3 separate regions of the Homo sapiens genome follow, and regions 1 and 3 are each linked to region 2. Evidence: fine-mapped expression QTL. A gene starts in region 2. Each other region holds a variant in brackets. All regions are shown on one strand. Distances are from middle to middle.

Evidence for each region.
Region 1: its variant is fine-mapped to the expression of TPO in tibial nerve (GTEx, PIP 0.99).
Region 3: its variant is fine-mapped to the expression of TPO in visceral fat (GTEx, PIP 0.92).

Annotation. Positions count from the first base shown.
Region 1 is chr2:1,371,424-1,377,714 of GRCh38, forward strand. It overlaps a transcript of TPO not described here. Among named protein-coding and RNA genes, the nearest start is that of TPO, 39 kb to the right of the region's middle. The variant A/G (reference allele first, on the strand shown) is at 2,740.
Region 2 is chr2:1,409,209-1,415,443 of GRCh38, forward strand. TPO (thyroid peroxidase) reads left to right here and starts at 4,255. Exons shown (of 17, transcript NM_001206744.2): 1 at 4,255-4,337; 2 at 5,200-5,294. The coding sequence starts at 5,201.
Region 3 is chr2:1,459,577-1,464,576 of GRCh38, forward strand. All of the region lies in intron 7 of TPO (thyroid peroxidase), which reads left to right. Among named protein-coding and RNA genes, the nearest start is that of TPO, 49 kb to the left of the region's middle. The variant C/T (reference allele first, on the strand shown) is at 2,635.

The sequences.
Region 1 (6,291 bases), 38 kb before region 2:
TGGAGGGACCATTTGATTATTGTCCATTCAGACAGATAAAACTTAGGACAGGATTTTTCAAAACAGATATAAGATGGAGAACATTTCCATGTTGTTCTGGTTTGCTGCTTTCAGTGTTTGGGACAAGAGATAGACAGGTGGAGGGTACATAACCCCTCCCCCGATGCCCACAATCCCCACAGGTTTCCGACCTGACTTTTAAATACAGTTGTCAGCACACTGGCTGTCAAAACCAGAGGAGCCAAGGCTTGGAAGACTGTTGGCTTAGGAGTTGGGAGAACTCTGTGTCCTTTCTGAGGTGACCACAAGCAAGTTTAAACCCGTGTGAAGAATTTACCATGTTTAACTCTTTTGCTCATATATGGAATAGAAAAAGTCACAATCCCTGTTCTTCACCCCCTCACAACCTCATTATGGGCATCAGGTGAGAAATCTGGGAGGAAGTTCTCAGCAAACCAGGAAAAGTGGGTTTTGAGATTTGAGCCGGTGCCTGCCATCTCTAAGGGTGTCCTTATCCATGCAACCAGGTGCCTCCTGAAGTTATGAATGGAATCTGTGCACACACGCTAGAAAAGCAGCAGGAAGCATTCACAGGCAGCACCATTTCCCTAAGGAAAAGCACTTTCTATCTGTGAAAAAGGCCCCGATAGACGCGGGCTTAGAAACATAAGTTCCTCATTTCAGTGAAGCGCTTGCAAGCACTCCCTATCAGCAAGCTGGAGAAGTACACACAGAAAATGCAGGTTACGGTGGAAAATGAAGACATGCCTGGCACATCGTCAGGAGCATGGCTAAGTCAGAGACCCAGAGGCGGCATATGCTGAAGTACAAAATTAACACTTTGTAAAGCCCTTAACAGGTTAAAACCCTGGGATAAACTAACACAATCGATGTTTTAGAGAAGAAAGTACTATCATTGAATTTTAAAAAAGAAAAGATTCAAGGGGAGCCCGGTCTCCCAAACAGTAGCTGTTGGGAGAAGCATGTGGAACATTTAGGTGAAAGTGTTTTTGATCCATTCAACAAGTATTTGTAGAGCATTAACCCGGGGACCAGGCACTGTGACAGGTGCTGCAGCCACGGCCTTGGGTGGATGGGCAGCTTGGATGGATGGGCAGCTTGGGTGGATGGGCAGCTTGGGTGGATGGGCACCTTGGATGGATGGGCAGCTCACAGGCTGGGATAAGCCATGGCACATAGCTGCTGAAAACGCCGATGTCATTCTGGTGCTCACCGTGAAGGAAGATGGGCAGACAATGGCTTGCCCCTCGCCATGCACCCAGAACCGGTCAGTTCACACAGGAAACGTGGACTTTTGTTCTGGGAGCCATGTTTCAAGAAGGACACTGACACACTGGTTCCCAACAGGTGGTCAGTTTTGTATCAGGTGCTTCCTTTAAAACACAACTCCACAGCACATGTCAGGAACTAGGGTTTTCATAGAGCAGGTAGGAAGCTATCCTGCTGTACACCCCTCTGGACAATCTGTACAAAGTGCACAGTAATTTTGCCACCTTAGCAGAATTTCCATAAACTGGATTATATTATAATGGGTTTTTTGTGTTTTTAATCTTAAAACTCAGAGTCAATACTCTTTCTCACTATTAATAGAGTGTACATATGGGAGTTTGGGTATAAACACGGGATAGAATAAATATAACTGACCTTATACATGTATCCTACACACTATCTCTACTATGTCATTTTTTTCTCTGTGAAACTGTGTGAGTCTGGGTGGGACGTAGCATAAGACGGACTACATGACTCTTCGAAATTCAGGTTACCCCAAATCTTTTCCAACAGGACAATCTTTTTAAAAGCACAGATAGATGAATACCTACTTTGTGCAGGGTATATAATAATGAAATGTCACAGAAAACTCAAACACAGGAAAGTGTGGGTGGCAGTTTTACCATTGTGGGAATGATCCCCCATCCAGGGCACAGCCTCAGCATCTTTTCCTATGCCTTTAACTTCAAAGGTCCATGGACAGTCCAAGCTCCAGGCCCAGAGGTATTACAATACGCAAACTAAAATACAGTTGTTTGTGGTGAAGAAAAAGTTGAAACAGTTTTAAGATGAATATATGTAGCTTCAAAATACTTAAGCCAACTGTAGATGATATTGTAAAAGATAAGCTGCTACCTGAAACCTATCTTGATGGGCCATTTCAGTTTCAGAACTAACATGCTGAGTGTTGTAAACAGCAGTTCTTGCCCCATGGCAGATCTAAAAGTGCCTGTGTCCGTTGGGAAGAAGAACGGTATTTAAAAGCCGTCTGAAATAAGCCTCATGGGAAAACAAGTCCACTGCCGCCCCTCCCACAGTCTCTCCGCTCTCCCTGCATCAGCCAGTGGTTCACACTGAGGACACACAGGTGAATCACGTTGAGAATTCCCAGCAGAACCGTAGTTTTCTCCCCAGCTGGCATCTCAGATCAGCCCCGTGGCTGATTCCATGGTGGGCGGGGAAAAGGGACCTACTTCACAATGACTTCCATCTGGGCCATGAGAGGAAGACTTGCCCCCGGCCAACAAGTATCCGAGAGCTGGAAAGGCCGCGTGAGCAAACAGACAAAACCTGCACTCGCCTCCCTTAAATTGAGGGGAAATCCTGGAGAAACGCCTTGCACACTCAGAAACAAACAAGAGAGATGGTCACGGCGGCCAAGTCTGCAGTTCACCTCTGTGGCCACTTCCCTCTGGATGAAGCCCTCAGCCATGGTCTCCTCTTCACGAG[A/G]TTATAAGGAAAGATAATTCAGATGGAAATCTTTTTTACCCAGCCTGCTGGAAATGCAATGATTGTTGCTACAAGGATTGAAGGCAATGGGCTGGAAACACGCACCCAGCTCAGACCCTGCCTTCGGTCGGTGCCGGAATCCTTCCTTGACCCCAGCCTCACCGTGAGACACCGGGCCCTTCACTCAGAAAGGGCTCCGTCAGTCAGCACCTTGGCGGCCCACTACCCACCGTCCACCTGGTAGGATCTCTGTGTTTTCCTTTTCCTTTTTACTGAACGGGCTGAATTTTTGAGCAAGTTAATCTTTTGTTGTCATACACACAGGGATAATGAGTTTCCCAGCTGTGTTACAAACTTAATAAGTCATAGAAACCGTGGTCACTGTGTTTAATTTCTTCTTTCCAGGACAAGCATGTGTTTGCCCCTTTCGGGTTCTAAGTTTTAACTGACAAAATTTGAAACCATTTCTGCAAAAATGTTAATGAGGATTTATTTGAAAAGAACATCACACCAGAAAACATGAGCCCTGTAATTTATAGAGAAATCTTTTCTTTCTTTCTTTCTTTTTTTTTTTTTTTTTACTGAGATGACGTCTTGCTCTGTCACCCAGGCTGGAGTGCAATGGCTCGATCTCGGCCCACTGTACCCTCCGCCTCCTGGTTCAGGCGATTCTCCTGCCTCAACCTCCCAAGTAGCTGGGACTACAGGCACCCGCCACCACGCCCAGCTAAATTTTTTTTGTATTTTTAGTAGAGACGGGGTTTCACTGTGTTAGCCAGGATGGTCTCGATCTCCTGAACTCGTCATCTACCCACCTTGGCCTCCCAAAGTGTTGGGATTACAGGCATGAACCACTGCACCCGACCATAGATATACCTTTTCAACAGATATTTAAGAATAGAAAAACTGAAAATGTTGATTAAAGAGTTTTTAATTTTTTTTTAAGTTTTTAAAATTTAAAAAGGGAAAAAAAAGCATGAAGAAAATTGCATTAAATTACTTTGACCACGCATTGCTTAGGGCTGAAAAATCATGTTGGTTAGGCAGACGATAGGAGAGATGGGCTCGACTCAGACCTACACTGGCATAGGAAACTGGTGAACTGGGAAACTCACCTTGGTCGTGAAAGGGAGGATTTATTTTGGTTTACAGTATTGTAAGCCAAAAAGTGACCGAAGCAGATCTCAGTCAATTAGAAGTTTATGTTGCTAAGATTGAGAATGTGCCCGGAAAAAACAAACACAAGTCCCAGTGGGACCTGTGACCCGAGCCTTTTCCAAAGAGGGTTTTGGGAACTTTAAAGGGGAAAGAGCGAGCAGGAGGGGAGAAGGAAAAAGAGGGAGGGCAGGCAGTGGGGCACAGTCAGGCATGTGGCCGCAATCTCGTGGGCCTCTGATTAGCGCTAGTGAATCCACGTTTTACACACGATAAGGTAAGCCCTGGAAATCACAGCTGCCTGTTTGGGAATAAAAGGGAGGCAGTTTTGTGTGACGCGGGTCCCAAGCTTAACCTTCCCTGTGGCATCGTGAGTTTGGGGTCTTGAGAGTGTGTTTCCTTCACCGTGTCTACATCGTCCTTATGAAACATGTCCTGAGCACCCTCATTTCCAACCCTGCAGGCATTGCTCAGGCCTCTGATTCTAAACTCTAGTTCTGGTTTTTGGGGAAGCCACCTCCTCACTGCGAATCTCTGATTCCTTTGTTTGAGACACCAGAGGTGGGAAGACAGGAGGATTTTTCTAGTCACGCACAACGAACGTTTCTCTAATGCTATGCATGAGGGAATGACAGTGCTTCATCCAGCACAACGGGTTCCTCTTCAGGGTGCCACGCCCCACACCTGCAGCCCAGCTGCTGCAGGCTGCGTTTGCTGGACATGGGACACCCAGCACGTGCATCGTGGTAATTCCTGTAAATAAAGATGAGCGCGGCACCATCTGTTCCTCCGAGGAGTTAGCAATCTCAGTATTTTCTTCGTAAATCCAAATTATCCATTGTAGAGCTAATGGGTATAAAACCCGCCATCACTGCACTGCCTGCCCCAGGAACCAGGGCCATGCAAATGTCTCGCTCTGAAACTGAGACTCAGAGTGTCTCCTCTGTCTTTATTCCTTTCCAGTGAAAGCTCCCACATGCGTTGATGTGAACTGGATTGACCAGACATTTTGCTCTTTTAAACAATGGTTTAGGGAGGTTCCTAAAAGTTTCTTTGATTTGTTAAATACGTTATGAAGAAACTATTTTGTAGTATTCATAGAGATTCAATTTCCACTTAGCCATTGATCCAAAGTGACATTTTTGCTTGTTATGATGAGCCTTCTGAAGTGAGGCGTGGTCTCAACATCACCCGTGGTGATTACACGGGGCATTCGCGGGAGCACCAGCGTGGGGCTGAGGCTGTTCCTGATGGTGCCCAGGGCAGTGCTGATAGTGGAGGAGAGAGCCTGGTCTGAACAGCACCCCCAGTCCAGTCCACACGGATGAGGCAGGGCAGGAGATTCACCCTCCACCTCCCAGACCCATGACCGAGCACCCTTCACACCACCCCTTTCTCCTGTGAAAGAAAAGTAAAGACACTTAACAAAAAGTGATATTCTCAAACAAAAAGTAATATTCTTTAACAAAAAGTAAAACAACAGAATGATGTTGTTTTAAAAGCTAAACAAATGTAAATAATTCTGGTAGTGAAAGGAAGACCAAATTCATATATCTAAAAAAAGTAAAATTCCCAAGGGCACTGGCAGGATAACAATGATATTAAAAACCAGTGAAGACAGCTTTTGGTCAGGGCTTTACTTAAAAATTACTTTATATTTGGCAAAGACAAAATAGATAATATGGAATTTGGCTAGGGAAAAGGATGTATATTTTATTGGCTCCCACTGGTGAATTTACACCAGAGTCAGAGCTCGGCCACTTAAATAATATTTAATTTTTGTGATAAAAATGTTTTCTCCCTTAATAAACTGTTCCTTTAAAACTGGAATTCAAAGTAAATGCAAAGCAGAAAGAAGCTCCACAGTGTGTCCTTCGGGTAAACCAGTCTTCCTGCTGCCTTTAGATCAGCACCTCTGGTTATTTTTCAGCTTGACTTACACAGAAGAAAGTCGTATGCATTGGAATACGGTCTTTCTCTCACGGATTATTCTGGTAGATTTCAAAAGCCCTACAAGGATAATACAGGGAGCCATGGCCCTTTTGTGATTGCTGTCACAGTTTTATGAAAGGCATTTTCAAAAGTTAGCCTCGAGGAGATTCTGGAGATTTCTGTGCTCTCAGGAAACCCTTACCTCGCCGTGGCTCAGAAGCAGAAGTGAGGAGCCAGGCTTCTCTGTTTATGGAGAGGAATTTTCTGCACCTTCACAAGAGCTCAAAATGAACCCAGACAGAGTCTTTGAAGGACAAGGGCAGGACCCAGGGACCAGGCTGTGAGTCTGCCCTGCCTGGCTGCTTTCGGATCCTGTGTCCTCAGAACCCACCAAATTCATGTCGGTCTTGTCCTCACAGGTTCTCCTGGCCCTGGGTGAGTCACGCTGGGAGAGTTAGCACAGGT
Region 2 (6,235 bases):
CCTACTCAGAAAAACTGGAGCCATTAAAATGGTTACTGCTGAATGTGGAGCTTTTTGTGGTGTGAGAGAGCCCCATGTTTATTTCCTGAATTTCAATTAACAAAAACCCTCCTGTATTTGTCTTTAGTTTTATCTGACTCATATAAACTGGGAAATTACCTACCTGAGTTTGAACAAAGCTGAATAATTTTTCAAATTTTACAGGGGAATTTAATTAAGTTTGAATGACAGCATTTTATTTTCCAAATTTGTTTTAAAATGAATTGAGCTGTAATAAGAGTTGGAAGATAACACAGAGCTCCCAAACCTCCTTCACCCACCTGCTCAGTGTTAACTCTATGCACGGCCACAGCACAGCAACCAGGACCAGGGAGTGGACGTGGATCCAATGCTGGTGATTACATCTCAGAGCTCACCCTGGTATCCCCAGCTTTTCCATCTGCATCCTTTCCTCTTCCAGGATCCAGTCCTGGCACTGTGCAGCCCACGGCCGTCGGGGGTCATCAGGTCCCTGAGTCTCCTCTCATCCATGTTCATCTCTTAAAAAATAAACTTACAAATTTAAAAATACAAAAAACAGTGCGCGCACACACACACACACATGCACGTGCACATACACACACAAGCCAGGCACCAAAAGACAAACACCTCATGATCTCCCTCCTATATGGAATCTAAAAGTGTCGAGCTCATGGAAGCAGAGAGTGGATGGTGGACACCTAGGGTTACGGGGCAGGTGCGGTGGGGGGCAGGTGTGGTGGGGGCTGGTGCCATGGGGGGGACAGGTGCCGTGAGGGGCAGAAAGATGCTGGTCAAAAGTGAGGGTTTCAGTTGCAGGATAAAAATGTTCTGGGATCTAATGTATAGCTTGATGACTATTGTTTATTTGAAAATCGCTAGGAGAATAGATATTAAATGTTCCTATCACACACACAAAAGGATGAATACGTGAGGTGCTGTATATGTTAATTAGCTTGATTTAATCACCCCACAGTGTTTACATGTATGAAAACATCATGTGAACATAAATATGTATAATTTGTATTTGTTAATGATAGCTTGATGAAGCTGGGGGCGAGGAAAACAAAAACTAAAAAGTGAATGGCAAGTAAAAAAGGCAACATCAGGCTGTAGTTTGAAGAACACAAGGCAGTCAGGCCCTGGCCACATGTCAGGTGAGTCAAGTGTGAGCCCACCCTGGATCCCTTTTCTGTTACAGTCACAGGCAAGGGCCTATTACAGGTGGTCCTGGGCCTCGGTTAGGGAGAGCCTCTTGTCTGTGGACAGAACACACGATGTCTGCAGGGAGAAAGGTGGCCTTTCTATGGAGACATCAAGCAAAATGTGTGATTTGCTGTTTCTCATGCATTGATCAAGGTATTCAGTAATCAGATTTCCCCAGGATATCAAATAGTTCATTGGCACTTGCCAAAAAATGGAAGCGTGCTTGTCTTCTCGGTGGGCCCGGGACTGGACCGCAGGGCTGGTGCCACTCCTTCACTGAGACCTGCTTGTAGCAGGGCCCTGCATTCCCCCATCCTGCCATGTGTGAGTTGGCTTCTTACTGTATCATGCGTTCCTTGCAGATTTCTGTCTTCTTTGGAGCTCCTTGATTTTTCTCATAATGGGAGAAGACGTGTATTTTTTTCTTTCCTTCTCATGGCTAAAACTGTCCTCTTTCTCACTGAGTCTCCCCTGCAATCTCTCTGCTCTCCATTGCTGGGTGGCCACGTCTTCCCAATGCTCCTTTCTGACAGAGACTGGGGGCTTCAGCCAGATCTTTAGTTGCCTCTCTTTCATTCTCCCATTATGTGATAGCCTCGGGTTTTCCACGTCCCCCTGCAGAAATCTTCCTTCCCAAGTCCCCCGTCTTCTTTCTCAAAAATGTGTGTGCTATCCAGTGGGCCTCCTGCAAACCCGCCATTCTCAGACTTTTCTCCGCTCCCCTCTCAACATTTCCAGTGTAACAGCTTCCATTGTACTTGATGCATTATTTATATTGTTTAATTAGTATTAAAATAAGCACATCATGTAATCCAGCTAAAATATGTATTTTCAAATGATAGATACATTTCTCATATTTGTGCGGGGTCAAATGGTAACAGCAACTTAGAGGAGAGGCTACAAAACGACCTGGAGAGTTGATGTGCCGGCTCGGCCTCCCCCAGCTGTGCATGCAAACCCCCTCTTCCCAGGTCTCCATCGGCACTCGGCATTTTCAAGCGTCCTTCTGTGATGAAAAGAGCATCCAGTCAGTATTTACTTTACATTTTAATGCTTTCTTCTTCAAACTCTTCCTTGAGTATTTGCCCCACGCTGTCTCATTTTACCACCCACCTTTCTGGCTGTGTGAATTTCCTGCGAATGCCTTAACAAAGGGCCACGTGCTTAGTGGCTTTACTCCATCAGCTCCGGAGGTCATAGATCCAAATGAGACTTTTGGCAGCAAGGTCCAGGGACAGGCCTGGTTGTGCCTGGAGACCCCAGAGGCCCTGCTCCTGGCCTCCTCCAGTTTCTGGAGGCTCATGGCCACGGCCCTCCAGTCTCAGTTTCCATCATCACTTCCCCCTTTCTCCCCTCAGACTTTCCCACCTTTGTCTTGTAAGGAGCTGTGTGCTAACACTAAGGCCAGTGGATAATCCAGGCTAATCTCCCCTCCTCAAAATCTTAACTGAATCCCATCTGCAAAGCCCCTTTTGCCATGCAGGTTGCAGTCACAGGCTGGGGGACTGTGTCCCCTAGACGCTGGTGCTCTGAGCTACTCTTGAGGTCTTTTCCATCCACATTCTCCCAAGAAGAATCCCATTCACTCACAGTCCACTACTGTATCCCCCCTCAGGACTCCCAAATGTGTCTTTTTAAGCTGGACTTCACCCAACAGCTGAAAGTACATTTCCAAATGCCCAAGAGCTCACTGCCCGCCTGTGCCACGGGCACCTCCAACACAATTCCAAGCCTGAGTCTGCTGCTCCTTTGCTTGTCACAGCCAGTCTCCTTTCTTCTCTGGCCTTCCTAGGGCCAGTACATGAGATTTTCACTTGCTTAGGCATCAAACCGAGGATGGCTGAATCCTCAGAGGCTCTGTGCTTTTCTTCTGTTCCCAACAGTAACTCATCATTGAGCCATGGAATCCTCTTTAATGAGCCACCGAGTCTGGTCCTTCCTCTCTATCCAAACCCCACCCTCCTAGTGACCATTCTCAGGGTGCGTGGGGGGATTATATCACTGTTGGCTGATCTCCTCCCTGCTCTTCAGAGCTTGTCTAACTCATTTGTTATCTTCACCCATTTGAGGGGTGAGTGATGAGGATTGAGGGGAGAATGTTAAAGGCAAATCATCACATTCTTGGGCTTCAGAACATCTTCTAACAAAGATTAATGTTCTGAAGCCTTTGCATCGTGTTTTAGCATTTGGTTTCAAATTACCTAGAGGAAGCATCAGTCACATTTGGAGAAGGGAAAGAAAAGGAGAAAGATGAAGATGATTTTCACAAACTAGAAACCCATAGGACTTCCGGGGGCATGAAGAGGCTCCAAGTCTCAGGAGCAGGTCATTGAAGATGTGTTATTTTATCATTTTCATGATGAGATACAGCCTGAAAGCAGATCACCCATGAAAACATGTCATCTCCCAGTGTTCGGAATGCAGTCATGGTGACCTTCCTACAGAACATCTCTGTCTTTGTGGGGACTCTTTTGATGGGTGCATGATGAGGATTGAGGGGAGAATGCATGCTGGTGAACACACACTGAACTGTGCTCATTTTTCACCTCAACAAATTGGAAAAAAGTGTACTTTATTCACCTCTTAGTGATAAGAAAACTAGGGGCTTGGGGACAGGAAGCAAAAGGCTCAGAGTTGTAGAGCGAGTCATCGGTGGGCCTGGGAGCTGCACCCAACCCAATCCTCGGAAGATTAACAGCCCCTTTTTCACAGGGTATTTAACTGTGAAAGTAAGAGGGAGGAAAATGCAAGTGTCACAAGTCTGGATTTAGTTGGTTTATTCTTTCTCCCTGTATAATTTTTCCCCTCTTCTTCCTAACTCATTCGGCCAGAGGCTGGACTGCATGTGGACCCCGATGACATGGCACTTTGTTTCTGACCAGTCAGGACACACAAGAGGCCCGGCGCAAACACAACAAAGCCCGCAGACATTCTGTCCCCACGAAGAACGGACGCCACTCGACTTCCTAGCATCTTGACGGGCTATCCAAGCGCGGAGTCAGTTTATAAGGTGGGTAACCAAGTCCCTGGAAGGCAATTAAGGCGCCCATTTCAGAAGAGTTACAGCCGTGAAAATTACTCAGCAGTGCAGTTGGCTGAGAAGAGGAAAAAAGGTCAGGTTGTAAAGCTTTTTATTTTTCCATTTTCTAAGAGAAATTCATCATTGGAACTTGTAAAGTGGCCCAAGAGTGGCTGTAATTTGGGCCATTATAGCAGGTATGGGTGGCGTCTCTCAGCAAAGCTGACTGACTGACTGATGAGTGCTGTTTGCAATGACCTCCGCTGGAACATGTGAGTCCTGTAGGGTCGATTCCTAGATCACCGTCTACTGAGACACATTCCTGTCAGCATGGACTCACTGGTGCTATCCTGCTTAACAAAATTAGTGGCTCAAAAATAGCCACAGAAAGCCTAAGAGAAGAAAACAAGGATTTGAAAGTAGAAATGATGAATTTTGAATCTTCTGTTTTGTCTTAACAACTAGAATTCTAAAATCATTTTATGGACATAAGAATGCTTTAAGAAATTCAATAGGCATTTAGGGGTTTTATTTATCACTTTTATAAAGACTAAATTTCTAATAGTACTCACTTTTTGCCACATAGATGCATTAGGGGAAACAGATTTTTTTCATTCCCAATAATTATTCCCAGTACTGTTACACTATTTGACATTACCAAAAATTTAAATAGGTTATTACTGAGATATATTGGCAACTGGAGCTGCCAACATAAAAACTCTGTTTTTGAATAATGGGGGCCTGGGAGGCCTGCTCAGCGCTGCAGTTTCTGTAACCTCCTGACATGGACGGCGACTCTGGTCTCGCAGACCCCAGGCCTGTGAGGGTCGCTCACTGCGGTAGAGGCTGCGTGGAGTCAGTGGAGGGAGCCCCTCAGCAGGGAGACAAGGACACAGCGGTTCCCATGGCCTTGTCAGTGCTTGATTACATACTCTGTCTCCTTCCGTTAATTTTAGAATGAGAGCGCTCGCTGTGCTGTCTGTCACGCTGGTTATGGCCTGCACAGAAGCCTTCTTCCCCTTCATCTCGAGAGGGAAAGAACTCCTTTGGGGTAAGTAGCAAACACATTGCGGTCTTCTGGCCTTATAAAGTTATTTTTCACACTTACTAAAATAGAGGGCATAATGGTAGCTCCTGAGAGTCACTTTAGGCCCCTGTAGTGTATGCTTTGTTATGCTTAAGAAAAAAAAATTGTAATTCTTGATTTTAGAAGGATTGAAATATGTACATTTCTTTCTTTAAAAAAGAGCTGATTTTCCTTGGATGACACAATAGACAATTTTCACTTTTACCTATTCATATAACTGAAAAAAAAATTCTTTGGGAGTGTTTTTCTTCCTTTGCTACAGAATTATTTTTTATTAAATAACTTCTGTGATGTATTTTCTGGAATCAGTGTGCTACTATGTGAAAACAAGTTAAGAAAGCTACTGAGATGCAGTGGTTAAAATAATCACAGATCAAGCTCTTTGCTTTTCTTTTAATAAAATAAATAAAGTTCCAAACCCTGAGAACAAGTTTCACTGGAGTGAATACTGCAGGGGCATTTGCCTGGACATTTTACCCCATGGACACCGCTGGCCCCGGGAGCAGGTGACACCTCGCTGGGCAGGTCCCTGGGCCTCTGCACACAGTCCCGGGGCCCCTGGAGCAGGTGACACCTCGCCGGGCAGGTCCCTGGGCCTCTGGACACAGTCCCAGGGCCCCTGGAGCAGGTGACACCTCGCCGGGCAGGTCCCTGGGCCTCTGCACACAGTCCCGGGGCCCCTGGAGCAGGTGACACCTCACCGGGCAGGTCCCTGGGCCTCTGGACACAGTCCCGGGGCCCCTGGAGCAGGTGACACCTCACTGGGCAGGTCCCTGGGCCTCTGCACACAGTCCCGGGGCCCCTGGAGCAGGTGACACTTCGCCGGGCAGGTCCCTGGGCCTCTGGACACAGTCTCGGGGCCCCTGGAGCAGGTGACAGCTCACCGGGCAGGTCCCTGGGCCTCT
Region 3 (5,000 bases), 50 kb after region 2:
AAGGAAGACAGGCTGGTCCCTGGAAGGTGGGCAGGACAGTTACATAAACCAGCAGTTACAAAATTCTGGGCATCTGCAGAGGAGGTCCCAGTGGGCAAAATCAAGACATCTAAACAAAATATCCCAAAAGGAATAATATTGGGGGAAAGGTGGAAAAGGAGCACCATAAAGACTGTGTCAATCATAGAAACTGAATTTCAGCCAGGTCCAGCCTCTGTCCCTGGGAGGAGGTCTCTCTCTCTCACACGCTGGGGCTCAGACCCTGGGAGACAGGGGGCCCCTTGCTCTTCTCTGCAGAGCCCCCTCACCAGGGCGGCCCCCTGCATGTGTTCCCTGCTGCATGTACCTCTAACCTGGGATTCTTTCTTTCTTTTTTTTTTTTTTTGAGCTGGAGTCTTGCCCAGGCTGGAGTGTAGTGGCGCAATCTCAGCTCACTGCAACCTCCGCCTCCCGGATATAAGCGATTCTCCTGCCTCAGCATCCTGAGTAGCTGGGACTACAGGCATGCGCCACCATGCCTGGCTAATTTTTCTATTTTTAATAGAGATGGGGTTTCATCGTGTTGGCCAGGCTGGTCTCAAACTCCTGAACTCAAGTGATCTGCCCACCTTGGCATCCCAAAGTGCTGGGATTACAGGTATGAGCCACTGTGCCTGGCCCTAGTGTTATTCTTCACCACTCAGGACCCCAAAGTTCTCATCTGTTAACATTAGAGCTGTTAGATCTTGCAGAAGTACCTGTATCTTCAGCAATGAACAGTCTGCCAAGCAGAGGCCCTCGTTCCCAGCTAAGTGGCTCCCCAGCAGAATCTGTGCAAAAAAATGACTGAGTTATGCAGCCTGGAGAAGCAGTGGAGATGGGCACCTATTATCTATCAGGTCTTGGGTTCCAGGCTTGCCTTGTAACTTATTATCTGCGTGTATATAGGTTTGTTGTCCATAAAAAGAGTATATTTCCCAGGCTGGCCTTGTAACTTATTAGCTGCATGTATATAGGTTTGTTGTCCATAAAAAGAGTATATTTCCCACCTAATAATGTAGCAATTAGAATGAAATGAGATCGAATTTGCAAAACCAGGCTCAGAGAAGGAATTCAATGAACGTGTATTGTTATTGCTGTGTTGCTGGAAGCGTAGACCTCTGAGAGGGATGTGGGGTGATTAGGGAAGCTCAGCAGGGAGGGAGCACGTTGGGTAGGGAGCTGCACTGAGAGAACTACTCTGTGTGGAGGTTGGGCTCCCCTGGAGCTGCACTGAGAGAACCACTGTGTAGTGGGGTGGGGGCTCCACCTTTGGGCTCCCCTGGAGCTGCACTGAGAGAATCACTGTGCGTGGGGGCTCCACCTTTGGGGATCTCCTGGAGTTTCGCTGGTTTGGGCAAGAGCTGGTGAAAAGCAGCCTTGGAAGAAGGAGGGATTGTTCTTGCAAGTCTGCGGCTGCTATTGGGGTAATTTATGTTTGTCCAGACAGGTGGGACAGTTGGGGGCCACCATCTGGGTGGGAAGGACACGGGTAGCCCTGAGGCCAGACAAGGACCCCAGGAAAAGCCCAGCCCTTCAGGGCCACACACACCGTGGGGGAGGTTGGGGGGCCTCTGGCCAGGGCATCATCCTGGGCACGTTCTGCTGGTATCCAGGGTCACGTGATGGTTGTGGTGAGCCCCACACACCCGCCCCCAGAGGCTCCTTCCTCCACCCACAATACTCAGTTATGTGGATGGCTGCGTTCGTATAAAGATAAATATATTAATGTGGGTTCAAACGTTCTTTGGCCTAAATGTTTATTATTTTCTTCTGATTTTAAAGCAAGTTAAAGATTTTGTGACCACACTTGCTCCTGTGGCCCTAGGCACTGTGGCTATGGTGCCGCCTGGGTAGGCTGGCCCTGGGGAAACTGGACTTCCACCTGCCTCAGGGGAGGAATTGGCCTTTCGTCCTAAGAAAAGTCTCCTCAGAAGAACCCGAGTGGGAGTGAAAAGCAAAAGTGAGTTGGGCCCCAGGGCCCCCTGCCCCACCGGGCATAAATATACCCACAGGCATGCACACACTCACAGGCACAGGTGACCGTGACCGCCCGTACACCTGTGTGCACGCCCTTGTGCACACACACGCACACCCACCCACACCCATACACACACGTGCACACAGGCACACGCACCTATACATGCTCATGACACACAGACCCACACACACACCTGCACACACCTCACATGCACACAGCTGCTCCAGGATCCTTCTGCTGACATGCGGACCCTGTGTAACTCAGGAGTGTATTGGACGAGGGCAGGGGGGGCCGTGGCGAGGAGCAGGATACTGTGATGCCCGTGGAGACCCCCGCAGAGGTTCCGGGGGGTCCGGGCACTGGCTCCTTCGGGGCTCCCTACTGGATCTCAAGGGAAAGGCGGGTGCTCTCATCAGCCATGTCACTCTCCAGTGTCCTCCTTTCTTTTTAGGGCTCAGTTAGAGTGAGCCCGGTCACCCCAGGTACCGTCTCTCTGCCCTATTTCAACTTTCTCTTCTGGCTCTTCTGGGCCAGCCTGTCTTTCGTGGGGCAGGACTGGGGTTGACAGCACTTCCCTTCCACACGGAGCACATGCTTGTGGGACCCTGAAGGCAGAGAGGCTGGGGCAGGTGCTG[C/T]GGGCAGCAGGCGGGGAGGGGCTGGACCATCTCAGGCGGGGAGCCTGCAGGGCTTGTTCCCAGGAGCTGAGGAGCTGACTCCAGACCTCAGGGCTCTGCGCTAAGGTCCCTGGACACAAACTCAGGGCACAGACAAGAGGCAAACCCTCAGGGGACGACTTGAAAATATGGAATCACAAGGAATTGTTATCTTCATTCTATAAAGAGCTCTTATAAAGCAATGAGAAAAAAATAAACACCCAATGGAATAAACACCCGATGTGAACAAGAAAATTACAAGAAAACCCAAATACGTGTGTGTAGGTAAACACACACACACACACACACACACAGATATCAATGAAAGATAAATGAACAGCAAGATGCTGTTTTTAAACATACAGACTGGAAAGAAATTATGAAATTTTAATTTAGTGTTGTTGAGGGTATTGAGAAATCATTTGCATCCATGCATTGCTGTGCAAAAGTAAACTGGTGAATACATTCGGGACACGATGTGACATAAGGTATGAAATGAAATCAGGCCCATTCACAGCACCACAAGAATCTTCCCTAGGGACAATGTCCAAACTGCCCTTAAAAGTGGGTGAATATATTAGTTTGTCACGATTGTTTATATCACCAAAATACTGAAAAACTTTAAACGTTGATCACAGGCTATGAGCATGAGAAACACAAGCAACTTTAGACAATCATGTTATACAGTGATATTATGGAAATGGTAAAATGTTGCCCAGCTTAGTAAAATTTTAGATGATATTGTACTTGTCACTTTTCTTATTTCAAAATGTTCATTATTGAGCATATATTATCTTTGTACTTAGAGAAAAATAACAATAAAATTATTTGTAAACAATTTTAAAAATAAAAGGCAAGACCACATCTGGCAGGGAGGACACCTGCGTGCCCGTGGGTGAGAACGTGGGAGAGGCCCCAGGGTGGGTCTCCAGGGCACTTTCCAGGGCTCTTGGTGTCAGGCATGAACCTCCTGGCTTGCAGTTAAGAGTGTCCATCAATTATTCAGATCCTGTCCATCCCCAGGGCAGCCTTCAGTAGTTGAGTGATTGAGCTAACAGTCACTCCAGTGAGATGAAAAATATACCGTATACTCTAGGAGTAGCTCCATAAACCCAATAGATGACACATCATAAATCAGTGCTTTTAAATGTTTGATGTCCTTTACACTCAAAGCATCCAGTTTGGTCTCTGAGTATTTACGGTGGAGTGAGAGGGTGGAAGTTCTTAGTGAGCTTGGAGCAAGTTGGGACTTTTGAATCCCAAAGCAAAACAGAAAATGATCCACACAATTTATCATATCTATGTTTATTCAGTTTTCCTAAGAGAAACATGTTTCCAGCAACTACACGAGACTATAAATTAAAGTGTTTTGAGTCTCTGACTACTGATCACTCAGCCCAGGGAGCTGTGAGAGCTTTGCAGCATCCTCTATTTTAGGACTGGGCTTTTCTTCATGACCTTGCTCCTTCTGGTCTCGGCTAAGTGGGGGTGCAGGCAGCCCGATGATGTTCCACTGGGTGCTGCAAACCCCCCATCCACTGCAGAAAATATGTAGCTATGAATGTATCGACAACCTCAAAGCTATGCAAGCCTCCTCATGCACACCAATGTGTATCTCTAGGTACATATTACAAAGTGGAGTTAGTGGGTTATGAATTATGTTCATGTTGGAATTTTTTATTTCCATAAGTTATTGAGAACAGGTGGTGTTTGGTTACATGAGTAAGTTCTTTAGTGGTGATTTGTGAGATTTCGGTGCACCCATCACCCAAGCAGTATACACTGAACACAATTTGTAGCTTTTTATCTCTCACTCCCTTCCCACCCTTTCCCCCTGAGTCCCCAAAGTCCACTGTGTCATTCTTACGCCTTTACATCCCCATAGCTGAGGTGTCACTTATGAGTGAGAACATAAAATGTTTGGTTTTCAATTCTTGAGTTACTTCACTTAGAATAATAGTCTCCAATCTCAACCAGGTCTCTGCAAATGCCATTAATTCACTCCTTTTTATGGCTGAGTAGTATTCCATCGTATATAAAAAATCACAGTTTCTTTATCCACTCATTGATTGATGGGCATTTGGGTTGCTTCCACAGTTTGGCAATTGTGAATTGTGCGGCTATAAACACGGATGTGCCAATGCATTTTTCGTATAATGACTTCTTTTCCTCTGGGTAGATACCCAGGAATGGGATCGCTGGATCAAATAGTAGTTCTACTTTTAGTTCTTTAAGGAATCTCCACGGTGTTTTTCCACAGTGGTTGTACTAATTTACATTCCTACCAGCAGGGTAGAAGTGTTGTTCCCTTTTCACCATATCCACACCAACATCTATTATTCGTTGAT